Linked DNA regions of Homo sapiens. The protein of the gene in region 1 interacts with the protein of each later gene in a biochemical or structural test. Each region holds a gene or a part of one and is shown on either strand. Other genes may lie near its edges. The genes, in order: SRPK2, NCL and MARCHF10.

Region 1 (3,649 bases):
ACAACGTGACAAACTCCATCTCTACAAAAAATACAAAAATTAGCCAGGCGTGGTGGCATGTGCCTGTAGTCCCAGCTACACCAGAGGCTGAGGTGGGAGGATCACTTGAGCTTGGGAAGTGGAGTCTGCAGTGAACTATAGTCCTGCCACTGCACTTCAGCTTGGGGAACAGAGCAAGACCTTGTCTCCAAACAAACAAACAAAACCCTCAAAGACTATATATAGGCTTTACCACCAAGAACCATCTGTGGCCTTATGACAGCTTGGTATTATGAGGTCAAATTTAATATATTAAATGTCCTATTTTTACACTACAACAGAACGATGAGGTAAGAAAAACTGCCTCATTGCTCCTAGGTTCTCTAGGAGGAACAAAAGAAACCTCTAAAGCCATGACTTTTGGGGGGTGGGGCAAGCAGTGAATGAGGGCCTGCCCCTTTCCAAAAAAAAAAAAACCTCCCTTATGACAACCAACTGAAAAAGCAAACCTCATAAGCCGTCCTGACAGCACTGAGGGAGCTTATGCTTAATTCTTGGGAAGGGGGCAGGTGAGAAGACAGAAAGGCTTTTCCTTGGGAATCTGTTATTGATATTTATGCCACTGTTCACAGCAATAGCATTTCAAGAAGTAAGCAGGACAGGGAAATTGTATGGAGGGACAAACGTTCATCTAATGGAAGGCAGGTCAGATAACCTGGTATAAAATTGTGCTGAAAGCTCCATTAACCCACTACATCCGTGACTGCGTCCTATTTTTCTGGTTATATCACCAAACTTAATACCCCAAATTAGAAGCACAGCATTTCAGAGTTCAAAGAGTACTTAGCGCCTAATTCGGGGCAGCCCTGCTGCTAGTGGCCATTGTGGTCTAACCTCCCCACATCCTGAAATGGCCCCTGCTCCCCGACTCCCACTCAGTGTCTCCGCAGCTCCCGTTACACTAACTCCCACGTCTCAGTCTGCCTGCTGGGGTCACACAGAGAGGGTCAAATGCCTCTCCACACAGCACTCTCTAAATTCAAAGTGACCATCATTGGCCACCGGTTCTTTTAACCGTTCTTTTCTATACCTAGCTAAGGCAGGGACTTGGTTTTTGATATGGAAGAACTTTAATACCTTTAATAATTTAAACGTTATTGTCTGGTATTATCCTTAAGAGCAACGAGGGAATAGAAAGGCCTGGTGTTTCAGGACCTATCTGGCCATGTGCTGACTCAGATCATGCTGAGTCAAAGCTGAAAGACAGAAAGCACCCTCTTTTTCTCCTATCAGCTGGCACTATCTGCTCAACAATGCTTTTACTTGAGCATTAGAGGAGGTAAAACACAGTAAATTCAAGAAAATTGTTAAATTAACCTCTGAATAACAGAAAATTAATATATTTATTCTGCATTCCTTTTTTCAGTGAGAAGAAAAATGCTAAGCCTTGCACACAATCTTTTCTTTTAAATATTGGAAGAATATGGATAAAAAGCAGTATGGAATAGGAAAAGCATGAAACCCAACAGCAAGCAACCCACCTTTCCCAACACGGAACGCCTAAGTAAATACCACTGAGAAAAAGCTGCTGAATGGGCCAGGAAACAGGGCAGAGGAAGAGAACCAGGAACTGGCTCGCAAATGCAGGGCCCTTTGTGTTCACCAACTCACAGGTTCAGGGTCAATGACCAAACGATGCCAGGCAGGGCCAGGGGAGTTTACAGACAATGCAACTGTGCAGCACAAAACCAGCAGCAAAACAGGCCTGACAGATAGAAGAAGAGGCTTCTGCCGCCCTGTGGAAGCCGTCATCTCAACCACTCTGGGAACAGACTCTGTCAGAGGGAGTGGGCGTTGCTGCCACTGTTTCAGAAGAGGCTAGACATCCTAGAATAAGCCAGAATATCTGCTAGCTCTTGCTTTATAAGGGAAGAGAGATTATGCATTGGCATCTGGGGAAATCCCTTCCAGTCTGGAAAGGTGAGGAACCCTGCATGTCTGGTTGACCAGGCAGAGGCTTACCTGGAGGGGCTCCCACCTGCCCGCCTTAGGCAGTCTTCCCCTGGAGATGCTACCTCATCTTCCTCCACAGTGTGAGTGAAGGGAAAAGCTCCCTATACCCTGCACATTTTCAGGGACCACAAGTGAAGTCACTGTGTCACAACAACTGAGTCTGATTCATGGGGCTGTGGGCTGTGCAGGGCCTTAAGAAGAGACCATGTCTCTCTCACAAGCCCACAACCACACCAAACACCCAGGGCCCGCCTGAGGAGGATCCTTCCACTTCTTAAGATGCCTGCGGCAGCAACCTTCCCCTCACCCAGCCCACGGTGGATGACCCTTACAGTCAGAAAAACTGAGGTCGCATGCCTCAGAGAGACTCAGCCCCATCCAGAGTGTGAAAGGAACGAGCCAATTCCCATGGCAGCAAAGGGCACAGCCGTCCTTACCATACACGCCGTGCTCCAGATGTCCGCAGGGGTGCTGTACCCCGCTCCTATTAAAACCTCTATGGAGCGGTACTGACGCGTCTGGATGTCTTCCGTGAAGTGTTTATGCTGGAAGGGAACAGGCTGCATTACCACGGAGCAACACAGACATTCAAAAAGTGTCTTCGCACACAGAATCAAGACCAAAGGTTTTAGAAAGAAAACTCTACTTACCACCCAACAAGCATTTCCCAGGTCAGCAATTTTTACTCTAATTTTATCTGCATTCCGCGGATCCAGGGGATTCACCAACAAGTCAGCTGCCCGGGTTTTTGCTGGCATGAGCAAACAGCAGGACAGTTAGTGATCGGGATAGGTGGTTTGCATGTGTGAGCACAGTGTTTGCCAGGGTCAGTCTCCTTTCCTCAAGAGTAGTGGAATGATCACTTAGGCCTGGAATACTGTAAATTAAACTTGACAGAACTAAAATTGCTTGTTCTCCACCTCTGGAAAATACTCCAGAAAAGAGCAAACTGGGCTGCCCACAGGACGCCAAGGGCACTGCCTTGACCTTTCTCTTTTTATCCCCAGTTTCTTCGGGTCCAGGTCAGCCCTAGAACAAGCCAGCCTTGCTGTCCCCCTGTCTGCAGCTTTGTGGCGGCTCTTCATGGTGTCAATCCATCCCTTCACGGCCCAGATCGAGCTTGCTGATGCATTATTACAAGGAACATGAAGGTAGAAAGAACACTGCTGTGGGGGCCGATCACTCTCAGTGACACACAGTTCCTTGGACGCCACAAGACATCAGGGTCCCTGGCACCGACACCTCACACCCACATCATCCCCTACAGTTCCCACTGCTTGGGCTGAGCACACACAGATCTCAAGGGGTAGATGACTGTTGATTAACAAACACAGATTAAAGGCAGGGACTAAACTATTCTGGTTTTGTTTTAGACAAGGAAGGTCCCAGACAGAGGTCTCCTGAGATGGCCTGGGCCATAAAGGCAACCTCTGAGGTCAGTCATGAACTTGTCATGTACATGAGCAGTCATTCTAAATTCCAGGATGACTCCAGGGAATCTCAAAGGCAGGTATAGGGCCAGCTTCCCAGAGATTCTGGGGCCAGATCTTCTCAAACAAGTTCAGATCATGCCTGTATCAAGCAGAGTTAACCAAGGGGCAAGTGACAAACAAAAATAATCTGGTGAGGCCCAGAAAAATAGTCCTTAAAGTCAGCA
Region 2 (3,649 bases), on another chromosome or scaffold:
ATAAATGCCCTTAGTTTTATGCCACTTTTCAATCAAAACTCGAGCTTCCCTCTTACTTCCCACTAGTTTTACAAATACTTGGAATTTTTTCATAGTAACCTCACCTCACTGAAAGAACTGCTACTACTTACAAAGTATTTATTGTAAGATAGGCACATTTCTTGCTTCTTTGTAAGTATTAGCTTGTCTTTTAAAATCACCCTATGAGTACATTATCCCCATGGTACAGATGGGTTACTGAGGCACAAACTTACAGGTTAAACTGTCCAAGATTACACGCCTAAGGAAATCAAACCAATATTTCTTTTATAAAGCAGGAAAGTGCATTAATGTTAATAAAACCCTTACATTTCAATAGACAGAACATACCCTTTACTTTTCCCATCCTTGCTGACTAATCTGATCTCCGCAGCATCTTCAAACACTTCTTTCAATTCATCCTGAGTGACTTTGTAAGGGAGATTTTTAGCCAAAAGTGTTCTCGCATCTCGCTCTAGATTAAAAAAACAAAAATGAGCTCTGTGGCCTGAAAAACCAAAGGTGGGGGGCAACAACAAAAAGAGGGGAAAAACACACATAGCTCTATTCAACAAATAATTTGAGATCCTATAATGTACAAGGCTCGGTGCTAAATATGGAGATATAGCAGTGTCAACACACAAGTGGTCCCTCCATGTTGTCACAGCTGATGTCAAACTCTCTGTTAGGTACACTGGAGTTCAACCTAGAGTAGACGCGCATAACAAAAAAAGTGAATGTACCAATTCAAAACATTACAACTGTATATAGGGAGTAATTAGGGACCTAATCTAGTTTCAGTGAAGAAAGATCCCTTTACGTTAATTTAGGTGCATCTAATAATTCTTGTTCTGTATAAAAGTGCTCTTGCTTGCCTAACTCAGGAATTTACACTATAACACTGACAAGCAGTGCCAAGTACTCTTGTAAACACTGTAGCTCATTTAATTCCCACATTAAGAGGAAACCAAAGGAAAAAAATGATTTAAAAAAATAAGAGGAAACCAAGGGAAATGGGTTACAAAGCATTTTCCCTAGCAGTCTAGCTCCTGAGTTCATTGCATAATCTCATAAAGCCTTACATACCTTTCTTACTGTCTTTTCCTTTTGGTTTCTCTAGTTTAATTTCATTGCCAAAGACTTTCAAACCAGTGAGTTCCAACGCTTTCTCCAGGTCTTCAGCAGATTCAAAATCCACATAACCAAATTTCCTTCAAGGTGGAGAGGAGGGCAAAATTACAACAGGTGAAAACACAAATCAAAATCCACAATATGTATTCTAGACAAATGTGATGGTGCAAACAAAGATCACATTTTAAAAAGCACCCCTAGTATTAGCAAAACAAAGTCAAGGCTCTGCAAACTGCAGCTACAGAACAAGGTCTCAGCATGAAGATATGACATGCACATTCACGTTTGAGGTCTTCATCATGGAGCTAAATTGCTTATAAGAATTCACAGTAGCAGCTGACAAAAGAACACCTATAAGCACTAATACAGGAGAATCCTGTCTGGATAAAAGTATTCACTATGATGACTAGACAGGTCTAATAGTTTCAGGTACTTCCAAGAAAATAAACATTATTTTAAATTGAGACGGTGTCTCAATCTGTTGCCCAGGCTGGAGTACAGTGGCGCGAACTTGGCTCACTGCAACCTCTGCCTCCCAGGTTCAAGCGATTCTCCCACCTAACACCAAATTATTAAAACTTACTGGCAGGGTGGCTCACGCCTGTAATCCCAGCACTTCGAGAGGCCGAGGTGGGTGGATCACTTGAGGTCAGGAGTTCAAAACCAGCCTGACCAACATGGTGAAATGCCATCTCAACTAAAAATACAAAAATTAGCCAGGCATGGTGAAGTGCACCCGTAATCCCAGCTACTTGGGAGGCTTAGGCAGGAGAATCGCTTGAACCCGGGAGGCAGAGGTTGCAGTGAGCCAAGATTGCGCCACTGTACTCCAGCCTGAGCAAAAGCCAGCGTCCGTCTCAATACATAACAAAAACAACAAAAAAACTTACTAAAAATTATTCTGTGCTATACCAAGTTACGACTGATTATGGAAATTGCAACTTAGGGGATCTACAGTTTAATTCTAACTTAGTTCACTAATGCTAATCCTTGAAGATGTTTACAGTATTCATGTTTAACAGTAGCAGGCTAAAGTAACTGTGCTAACAGGGGAAGGAAAAGCATTAACAGACCCACGTGTATGTAACGTGCAGTGAAGCACTTACCTAGTCATACCAATTCTGACATCCACAACAGCAAGATCATTTTTAGCAAAAACATCGCTGATACCAGTTTTTAATTCAGGAGCAGATTTGTTAAAGTTTAGGTTTCCAACAAAGAGATTGAAAGCCGTAGTCGGTTCTGTGCCTGCACAAAAAAAGCTCAACTCAGTCTACTTGTAGTGTGGTAAAAAGTTAGTTTCCAAAGCAAAATTTCTATACACAGCACATCAGCACACTACAATGTAACATCAGGTTTCAGTATTAAGTCCCTTTGTTATTCATCATTTGTGCTGTTTATCTCCCCCATATCCCCTAATTCTGCAAGTTACCTTCCACTTTCTGTTTCTTGGCTTCAGGAGCTGCTTTCTGTTTGGCCATTTCCTTCTTTCGTTTTCCAGGTGCTTCTTTGACAGGCTCTGGACAAGATGTCAAACAATGTATCACACATCAGTAGCCACAAACACTTAAGTGCCTCCTTTAAACATAACTCATGTCGTATGTCAGAATCTAATTTAAGTACCTTCCTCCTCCTCTTCTTCCTCCTCCTCATCATCTTCATCATCATCATCTTCATCATCTTCGTCGTCGTCGTCATCCTCGTCCTCATCATCCTCTTCTTCATCTTCATCCTCAGCCACGTTCTTGGCTTTCACAGGAACAACTTTTGCAGCTTTCTTTCCTTTGGCTGGTGTAGTCTCCATAGCTTCTTCTTCAGAGTCTGAAAGAGAAGTCACCTAAAAATTGCAGCAATCTCCCAAAACCAACATCGGTTTTCAAATCTAATGTAAAGAAAATGCAATCCTGTCACCATGTTTAGTTAACAGTCATGGCAAGAATAGATCACTTGGGGCCGGGCGCAGTGGCTCACGCCTGTAATCCTAGCACTTTGGGAGACCAAGGTGGGTGGATCACCTGAGGTCAAAAGTTCGAGACCAGCCTGGCCAACATGGTGAAATGTCGTCTCTACTAAAAATACAAAAATTAGTAGGGTGTGGTGGTGGGCACCTGTAATCCCAGCTACTCGGGAGGCTGAGGCAGAACTGCTTGAACCCAGGAGATGGAGGCTGCAGTGAGCCGAGATAGCGCGCCATTGCACTCCAGCCTGGGAAACAGCAAAAGCTCCATCTCAAAAAAATTTAAAAAAAAAAAAAATCACTTAGAAACAAAATCCTACATTATAAAAAACACTAATAGAATGTGCTATTGAAATTTTCTCAAGAGGCACAAAAATCATTCATGGGTAATTAAGTCTAGCACACCACAACAACCCAGAGAATTCCCACAAGGATTCTAATCTCATCTCCAGGTTGTCGTGGAAGGAATATGTTGATCCCAGAATCTCAAGATACCTTGTAATCAGAAGCCCAGTAACTACCAAGACAACTCCTTACCATCTT
Region 3 (3,749 bases), on another chromosome or scaffold:
GAAGTGATGAAGGGGAAAAACCAAGAAAGGAAACTGTGGGGGAGGGCACAGGGAAAGTCATAGTGACGAGTTTGGACTTCATTCCACAGGCGGTGAGGAACCTTTCAGGGCTTTTTAAGCAGGGGGCCAGCAACATTAGATGTAGGCTGCTTATAGGATGGGGGAAATGGTGAAGATAGGGTGTGGAGGACAGGCGCCCAGGGTGTGACCAGGAGGCCCTCAGAATAATCCATGGAGCCCAAAACTAGGTCATGGAGCCCAAAACTAGAGTGATAAGAATAGAAAGAAGAATGTGACGCTGCCAAGGACTTGGCACCAACTGAATGGGGGGAAGGGGAGGTGTTGAGAAGACGGTCAAACCACAGACACCTAGGGATTCCGGGCACTGATGAAAGTTCCAAGAATTTCTATTCTTCCTTTACCTTACTCTCCACTCAATCAAAAATACCCTAACTTGACATCAGTTGACAAGTTGAGAGCCTAAATATGCAAAGTAAATAGGGGAGTCATCTTTGCCCATGAGAACCACAGACAGACATCAACCCGGCAAAGCCGGGCAAGGTGGCTCATGCCTGTAATCCCAGCACTTTCGGAGGCCCAGGCGGGCGGATCACTTGAGGTCAGGAGTTCGAGACCAGCCTGGCCAACATGGAGAAACCCCGTCTCTACTTAAAAAAAAAAAAAAAATACAAAAACTAGCCGGGTGTGGTGGCGCATGCCTGTAATCCCAGCTACTCGGACGGCTGAAGCATGAAAATCGCTTGAGCCCCGGAGGCAGAGGTTGCAGTGAGCCAAGATCGTGCCACTGCACTGTCCAGCCTGAGCTACAGAGCAAGACTCTGTCTAAAAAAAAAAAAAAGAAAGAAAGAAAAAAAAGAAAAGAAAAGAAAAGAAAAAGAAAGAAATCAACCTGGCACAGAGAAGGTGAGGGTAGTAGCGGTTCTGGTGCCCTGGCTCCAAAGCTGTAGGGCCTGGTCTAGGCCTCTAAGCACCTCTCTCCTTGGAAAGGGGGTGAAGACGACTGATTACGAAGAGGCCTGGGCTCTAATGTCGGTTCTGCCACTGACTGGGTGCCTGGCTTCATCGCTTATTTCTTCTTTTTCGTGTTGGACCAGAGCATTCCAGATGTCCTCTGCAGAGGTCGAACTCCAGGACTGCAGTATCTTTTCCTCTTCGCATGTACCGCTTTTCACATTCCCTGATTCCATTAAAAATATTTTCCTCTCTCGTTTTCTAATCTCATTTTTTATGAAGCACAGCACCCTTTCAGGGAAGGGAGCAGAGGCCTGGATATCTGGGTCTGGGCTTGGGCACCCAGACAAAGCCAACCGCCTCCTCCTTGGGCATCTCTTCTCTGCCCACCAGCGTGGCTCTGACTCCCCGACTGCAGCCCGCCTCGTTCCCACGGCAACCGGCGGGCGCCCACGACTGGCTTGGGACCCCGGGGCCACAGCCCCGCCCCGCCCCGCCCCGTGCTCTCGGCGGCTGCACCTGGTCGCGCGGGGGCGGGGAGGCGCGGTTGCTAGGGAAACCGGAGGACGCCCGGTAGCCGCCCCCACCGCCTCCGCCCCAGGCAAGGCCGGCCGGCGCCGCGGAAAGCAGCCTCGGGGAAGGAGGAGGAAGAGGGGCAGGTGTAGGGAGTGAAGAAGCAAAAAGAGGAGGAGGAAGAGGAGCTCAGGGCCGTCCCCGCGCAATTAATGGGCGGCTCCTGCGCCCTGGACCGGCCCGCCCGCCCAGCCCCTCGACCCCTGTAGCCCCGGCAGGGGAGGAAGGGCAGACCCACAGGTAACGGCCCCCTCGCCCCCGCCGCTCCGCTCCAGTTCTCCCAGGATGGGGGACAACCTTCCCTTTCGACTTACAAGATTCTGGAGGGAAACCGGGCCTGACATCCGGTGGCCTGGCCGTCCCCTCCCCTCGGCTGACCCCAGCCCCAGCATTTTTCTGTCTCAGAGGGACAGGTTTGGGGGAGACCGTGAACCTTTGCTCACTGGCACCCACATTCTTTCCTGCAGACGCCACTGGTCAGAAAAGGTATACACAGACCATGGCCCACTGGGCTTCTGAATGCGAAATGGTCGATATTGATTTTGTTTATTTTTGAGAAGGAGTCTCGCTCTGTCTCCCAGGTTGGAGTGCAGCGGTGCAGTCAGGGCTCACTGCAGCCTCGACCTCCCAGGCTCAAGCGATCCTCCCGCCTCAGCCTCCCGGTGGTAGCTGGGACCACAGGCCAACACCATGTCTGGCTAATGTTTTAAATTATTTGTAAAGAAGGGGTCTCGTTATGTTTCTCTGGCTGGATATTGTTATTAATGATGGCACTGAATTGCTTGTCAAACCTGTGACGTTTCCTCCCCCAGAGTTTCCCAATTACACGTTGAGTTTCTCCTCTCTTCTGGGCTTGATGGTCGAAATGTGACCACCTATCTCTCCTAGTTTCACAGTAAAATGAAGAGTCACCGCCAAACACAAGTCTGTTCCCCACCCTCCACCCCGCCCCCAACTCTTAAGCCAAATTGGCTGGAAGAGTTGAAAGATCTCCTTACCTTTCCCAACCAATTCCCCCTTTTTCTCTGCAGTCACAGTATTCTTAAATTGGGCCCAAATCGTAAACTTTGTTGCTTATACTCAAGACATGTTTATAAGCTAAGACTTTAAAATGCAAAGTTTTTTTTAGAGCTAAGATTTAAACAAATCCTATAATGTCTGACATTACAAATTAATCAATTGGGGAAAAGGTTGAATAAGGTCTCCTGAAATCCTTCTCCAATCACCTAATTGTGGAAAGGGAGTAATTTTCGAGCCTGATTGTCCGGTATTAACAATAGCCATTTAGATTTTATTTCAAAGCAACCTTCCGTCTAAGGAGGAGGTTAGATTGTTTACATTTCCTTTATTGCTTAACAGCATATTAACTTTAGTGATGTCTTTCTCTTATGAGAACATAGTAAGAAACCAATAAGACTTTGATTGTTATTAAGAACAGGCTCCTTCAAATCAGTTCTTTTGACAAATGTGGTCATAAAACAGAGGGATGGTACGTATGCATGACTTTTAGAGCACTGAAAAACATTCTGCAATCAGATTCTGTTCCCCTCAGTCAGGAAAACTTGGTTGGAATTCACTGGAAAATTACACTAGAGAAGAACGTGTATGTCACAAAGTTCTTAGAATATTCCCCCATTAAAATTTCACAGATATGTAGAATTTTGAGGCCAAGAAGAATTACTCGCTCTTGCTTTCAGCAAGGCAGGACCCCCTCCTTCCTTCTCCACCTGCCTCCAACTCCCTCCTCCTTTCTCTCTCCCTACTTAATATGGCTTCTTATGTTGATTTCTAAAGCACAGATTTGGCACAAGACATTATCACCAGAAAGACTTAAAACAGAAGTGTGCATAACCATGAGTGGGTTTTAAATTAAGAAGCAGTTCAAAGGTGAGCGATAGAAGAGAATACAGAGTGCTATTTTAGAAACATGCGCCTTGCTCACATTTTATTATCACCCCCACCCCAACCCTCTGTGTTTGCTGGGGAAAAATTCTTGGCTTCAAGTGGCCATCTGGTTGAGTAGGCCCACAAAGCTGAGATCCATGAATTAAGCATTATCTCATGTAGTTTTATTTCCATACTGTTATTTCTGTTTCTTGTTCATCCTGGTCAGTTTTTCAAACTGACTGAGTGCAGTATGAACTTCAAGCAAACACAGAGAATGTTTGCTTATACTGAGGTAACCCACCATCTTCTTGGTCTGA

What was found.
Region 2: of the proteins of SRPK2 (region 1) and NCL, one has a biochemical effect on the other in vitro, tested with the Homo sapiens proteins (one large-scale study listed by BioGRID).
Region 3: of the proteins of SRPK2 (region 1) and MARCHF10, one has a biochemical effect on the other in vitro, tested with the Homo sapiens proteins (one large-scale study listed by BioGRID and IntAct).

Annotation. Positions count from the first base shown.
Region 1 is NC_000007.14:105,130,362-105,134,010, forward strand, and holds part of SRPK2 (SRSF protein kinase 2), read right to left. Parts: exon of another isoform or gene 2,744-3,649; coding exon 2,643-2,743; exon of another isoform or gene 2,538-2,642; coding exon 2,430-2,537; exon of another isoform or gene 1,406-2,429; intron 1-1,405. UniProt on the Homo sapiens protein: Serine/arginine-rich protein-specific kinase which specifically phosphorylates its substrates at serine residues located in regions rich in arginine/serine dipeptides, known as RS domains and is involved in the phosphorylation of SR splicing factors and the regulation of splicing.
Region 2 is NC_000002.12:231,457,897-231,461,545, forward strand, and holds part of NCL (nucleolin), read right to left. Parts: coding exon 3,644-3,649; intron 2,971-3,643; coding exon 2,773-2,970; intron 2,669-2,772; coding exon 2,582-2,668; intron 2,547-2,581; exon of another isoform or gene 2,472-2,546; intron 2,398-2,471; coding exon 2,256-2,397; intron 1,230-2,255; coding exon 1,105-1,229; intron 494-1,104; coding exon 370-493; intron 1-369. UniProt on the Homo sapiens protein: Nucleolin is the major nucleolar protein of growing eukaryotic cells. It is found associated with intranucleolar chromatin and pre-ribosomal particles. It induces chromatin decondensation by binding to histone H1.
Region 3 is NC_000017.11:62,806,113-62,809,861, reverse strand, and holds the start of MARCHF10 (probable E3 ubiquitin-protein ligase MARCHF10), read left to right. Parts: upstream 1-1,547; 5' UTR 1,548-1,785; intron 1,786-3,221; exon of another isoform or gene 3,222-3,432; intron 3,433-3,749. UniProt on the Homo sapiens protein: E3 ubiquitin-protein ligase. E3 ubiquitin ligases accept ubiquitin from an E2 ubiquitin-conjugating enzyme in the form of a thioester and then directly transfer the ubiquitin to targeted substrates.